Linked DNA regions of Homo sapiens: region 2 is linked to region 1. Evidence: fine-mapped expression QTL. Tissue or cell type: whole blood. Region 1 holds a variant in brackets; the other region holds the start of a gene. All regions are shown on one strand. Distances are between the middles of the regions.

Region 1 (2,628 bases):
AACAGATAAGGAAACAGAGAGCCAGGCAAATGACTTGCCCAGGGAGGCAGGCCACGTGGAGTGCAAGGGCTCCTGATTTCTTGTCTGTCCAGTGCACTGCACTGTGCTGGCTACTCCCAGCTGCTCCTAGGAAGATTACTCTGGCTTCTTGGCAGTAGGTCCACATCTACTTCTACCTCAACTTGTCAAGTCACACTCTTTTAACTCTCTTGGAGAAGGGTTTGTCCATGATCCCTGCCCTTGATGAGTTTTCTAACTAGGAGAAAAGCCATATAGACAGATACTGTGGTTAGGATTCAATTGCAGTAAAAATTCAGAGAAGGGAGCTAGGCATGGTGGTGTACACCTGTAGTTCCAGCTACCTGGGAGGCTGAGGTAGGAGGGTCGATTGACCCTGGGAGTTCTGGGCCACAGTGAGCTATGATTACACCTATGAATAGCCACTGCACTCCAGCCTGGGCAACATAGTGAGATCCTGTCTCTAAAAAAAAAAAAGAAATTAAAAACAACAATAACAATAAAATTCAGAGAAGGGGAAAAGATCTCTGTGGGCTGGAATAGGTTAGAGAGGCTTCCTAGAGAAGTTCTGCAGAGCCGTATTTCTAGGAAGTCTCAAAGCTTTATCTCTGATATTAGTCATCTCAATGGATTGGGGTATTTTACATCTTTAATCAAAAACTAATTTCTAAAGTAAATACTTAGATATGTTTCAGGGGCTCCACCTCTAGGGTTCACTGGGTCCCTGCCTTCCCATAGCTTCTAACACACATACACTTAGCTGAGGGCAGTGATCATCCTGGCCATATGCTTTCCCAGGTCCTGACACTTTTCCTTCTGTCCTGTTACGGGATGGGGGAGGAAGAGATCACTCACCCACCTCAGTAGCCTCTTACAGGGCAGGCAGCTGGGACCCAAGAGGCGGTCTCCTTGGCAAGTGAGCCCTCTTTGGCAGTGCTGGTCAACCCTGGGACAGACCTCCACCACCCAGGCCATTTGCAATATGGGGCCAAGACATTTGTTTGGGGGTGTATTCCTTGTGTTTGATCAGGCCTGCTCACAGATCTGGAGGCAGAGGAATGCAGGCTCCAAAACCAGGCTGCCTGCGCCTGCATCTCCAGTCCACCATTTCTAACTGCAGTGGTGAGTGCTGGGCAAAATCACTCG[T/C]CCACCCTACTGTGAGATGGGGAGTGTAATCCTAGCTGCCTCAAGAGGTCGTGGTCACAAGGACTGCAAGAGAGAAGGAAGGGGACACCCTCAGCACAGTGTTAGACACCCAGCACCCCAGTCATATCAGTCACTGGGGGTGGGCAAGATGCTGGGGCCACTTTATCCTTGCATCCTAGCTGGATCCAGAGTTGAGATGGGGAGCGGGGAAGAGCGAGGGCGTGGGAATGCAGGAAGAGTGCTGTTTCTGCCATCAGATCAGCTAATGGGAGGGTGGGAGGCAAGGCCACAGAAGTGCTAGCTACTGCTGTTTTGGTGTTTCTTTGCACACAGACAGCTTCCTTTTTCCTGCTGATGCTGCTAAAGTGTCTCAGACAAGAGGCCACCCTTACCCTTCTACTAGAAATCAAGAACCCCCGAGGCTGTTCAGTTTGCACCCTAGGAGAGGAGCCAGGCCACAGGTTGAAGAAGTTCCCAGGCAGCCAGACCCCATGGCTTTCTTTGCATTCCCCAAATCTGCCAAGGGTTTGACCTCTTGCACAAAGACCCTCCAAAGTAGTGTAGCCTTTTTGGCGTCCCCTCGGACCAGAAAGGTCCAAACTCTCCTAGGAGATAAGAACGCCACCTGCCTGTAGCCCTGCTCCAGAATGACATGTTGCACAGTCCTCTCCACAGCCTTCCCCTCACCTAGACACTGCAAGGACCAAGCCAAGGAGAAATTTAGAAACTGGCTGATGACAAAAATGACAAGACCCCCCTCCTCTATTCCTGTAGTCAAAGATTCAATAAAGCTTATCTAAGTTTGGCCTCTGCCTTCTCAGCAGAACTGCAAGGAAATTATCTCCAACTTAACAGTAGCCAATCTTGTCCTCTAAAGACAGGAATTTTCAATGTCCTTGAAATATGGGTTCAAATATTTGTCTACCTTCATAAGCAGAAAAATCTTAAATCCTTCTTATTCCCAAGCGTAGTCTTCCTTATTTCCTTTAGGGGAAATGGAAACCAGCTCCACACCTGTCCCGCTGCAGTGTCCCTTTCCTCCTAGCTGTGAAGGCCATGTGGAGCTGCCATCCCTCTGCCCGGCAGGGTGCACACGTACATGCATTAGCTATAACAAACTTCCTCTCTCCCTTTCCTTATACCTGACACTCCCAGCTGCTTTGAGTCTGTGTACAGAGGTTCTGTTTTCCGGTTTGTTGAATACTTTTTTTTTTTAATCCACTTCTATAGGCCCCTCAAATCCTCTCTTCTTTTTTTGAATTTTATGGCAGGCCATACCAGATAAGCATCCAATCCTCTCATACGGTATTCAGTAAAACAAGAACCAAGCTGTCAGGAAGGCTTGGTAGATGCTTTTTTTTTTTTTTTTTTTAGATGGAGTCTCACTCTGTCACCCAGGCTGGAGTGTAGTGGCGCCATCTTGGCTCACTGCAACCTCCGCCTCCCGGGTTCAAGCGATTCTCC
Region 2 (2,628 bases), 20 kb before region 1:
AATGCAAAAATATTAGAAGTTGCAGGATCAGGGTTTGAGTCATTTTTTTTCATGTTTCAGCCAGTCCTAAATAAGAGCTGTGAACAACAAGGCTACCTGGTGATTTTGTTTTTTATCTTTTTGTATGTGCATGTGGTTTTTCTGGCTTTTTGTTTTGTTTTGTTTTTGAGACAGGGTCTTGCTCTACCTCCCAGGCTGGAGTGCAGTGGCGTCATCATAGCTCACTGCAGCCTTGACCTCCTGAGCTCAAGCAATCCTCCAGCCTCAGCCTCCTGAGTAGCTAAGACTACAGGCCTGCACCACTGCACCCGGCTAATTTTAAAATTTTTAGTAGACGGGGTCTCGCTCTGTTGCACAGGCTGGTCTCAGACTCCTGGGCTCACGTGATCCTCCCCTGTCAGCCTCCCAAAGCGCTGGGATTACAGGCGTGAGCCACCGCGCCTGGCGATTTTGTTTCCTCTGTACTCTTCGTAGCTCACAATTACGCTAAAAGAACCTTTTTCCCATTGTTAATTCCTTCCATTTCCCTCCCCCACCCGTCGATTCCCCCTATTTTTAGGAAACTCGAAGATGATGTCCTTTCAACGTTCTCTCCTGTATTCTCAAATACAGGATCCAGTCCTAAATATTTTTTAATACATTGGCTAGTTTATTTCTGATGGCATTAAAAGTATCGGCACAACTGTTCCCTGATTTATAAAGCTCACAGATGCTGTATGACCTGTAACATTATACTAGCTAATGAGCTCTCCCGGAACAGTTGACGTGGAAGGAGTTTACTTCCACTTGGTTGCAAGGAGAAAGATGGAGAAAGCGAGAGACGATTGCAAAAAGAAATAACTTAGTCCATTTTCTCAGTGCTGTTTGGGGGCTTTGTGCTAATACTTAAATTGCAGAGGAGGGAGGAGACGGGACTGAGGATGGAGGGGAGCAGAGGAGGCAGGGGCGGAGCCTCGGCGGGCGAATAAAACCCCTCGCTAAAGAGAAGCACGTTAGTGTGTGGAGAAGCCACTCTCCCGAAACCAGAGGGATGGGGCCGGCTGTGCAGTAGAACGGGGATCGAAAAGAGGAAAACAAGGGCACGAAGACCAGCGAGAAAGAAGAGGACACCTGGGAAAGGCGGAAGCAGAAGACGGGGAAGGGAAAAGAAACCCAAAGCAGGTGGAAACCAGATCTAGAGCAACACCGTCAGGTTCACAGTTTGTTTTTCTAGAAGAGAAGAAAGTACCTGAGGATTGCTCTTTTTTCCTACCGTTAATGAAAACTACTTTTGTCTTCATCATAAAAGAAAAAACTAAGGGGAGGTAAAGGCAGTCTCCTGTTTTATTAGGGGGAGAGGTGAAGGGAAATCCAGGCTCACTTTCTGAATAAGCCACTGCCTGGTGCACAGAGCAGAACCATCCTGGTTTCTGAAGACACATCCCTTTCAGCAGAATTCCAGCCGGAGTCGCTGGCACAGTTCTATTTTTATATTTAAATGTATGTCTCCCCTGGCCTTTTTTTTTTTTTTTTTTTTTAGCAACACTTTTCTTGTTTGTAAACGCGAGTGACCAGAAAGTGTGAATGCGGAGTAGGAATATTTTTCGTGTTCTCTTTTATCTGCTTGCCTTTTTTAGAGAGTAGCAGTGGTTCCTATTTCGGAAAAGGACGTTCTAATTCAAAGCTCTCTCCCAATATATTTACACGAATACGCATTTAGAAAGGGAGGCAGCTTTTGAGGTTGCAATCCTACTGAGAAGGATGGAAGAAGGAGCCAGGCACCGAAACAACACCGAAAAGAAACACCCAGGTGGGGGCGAGTCGGACGCCAGCCCCGAGGCTGGTTCCGGAGGGGGCGGAGTAGCCCTGAAGAAAGAGATCGGATTGGTCAGTGCCTGTGGTATCATCGTAGGTGAGTTCCATTCCTTCCCGCGGACCCCTCCTCTCCCCTCTGGTGGTCCTCCTGTGAGATCTTAACCCTTCGAAAGCATTATTGTTCTTCCTATTCCTTAGAAAAGGATTGTCAGTCACCTGAGCTGTAACTCACCTCCACTGGTCAAGTTTGAGAGGCATAGGAAATACATCATACATCTCTTCCTCCAAACCAGGCAAAGATTCTGCCCAGTGTTCATAGAATGGAGCAAATCGTGGTCAGAAACCCGGCTGATGATTAGCATTGCCTGGGAACTCCTTAAAAATACAGGTCCTGGTCTCGACACTTGGAGGTTCTAGTTCAATAGGTTTAAGGAGGGACTGAGGGACCTGAACAAGTTTGTATGCAGCTATTATTCCCAGGCTGGGGATGGGCTTTTAAGGTATATTTGGTAGCTATTTTGCAGTTTTATGTTAAATGAAACTATGGGATAGGTATTAAAAATAGCAAGAGCAATGCCCTGCCTTTTTATTTTAGCGTTTTCCACCTTATGCAGCACTTTTACTGTGTGAAGTAGCTGTGACAGGGCTGTTATTCCCATTTCACAGATGGGGAAGTTATGGAAGAAAAGAGGGGACAGATTGTGCCTCTCGGTAAGTGGAGAGTTTGCAGTTTCTCCAGTTGCCTGGTGGGGTCCACCTGTTTCTTAACAGCCACGGAGGACCCGGTGAAGCTCTCAGAGGGAATCAGGAGTAACTAGAATGTGTAGAATATGG

The links. PIP is the estimated chance that this variant, and not a neighbour inherited with it, causes the effect.
Region 2: SLC7A8 starts here. The variant in region 1 is fine-mapped to the expression of SLC7A8 in whole blood (TOPMed, PIP 0.97).

The regions. Positions count from the first base shown.
Region 1 is chr14:23,161,834-23,164,461 of GRCh38, reverse strand. All of the region lies in intron 3 of SLC7A8 (solute carrier family 7 member 8), which reads left to right. Among named protein-coding and RNA genes, the nearest start is that of SLC7A8, 21 kb to the left of the region's middle. The variant T/C (reference allele first, on the strand shown) is at 1,165.
Region 2 is chr14:23,182,027-23,184,654 of GRCh38, reverse strand. It overlaps SLC7A8 (solute carrier family 7 member 8), which reads left to right and starts at 995. Exons shown (of 11, transcript NM_012244.4): 1 at 995-1,891. The coding sequence starts at 1,741.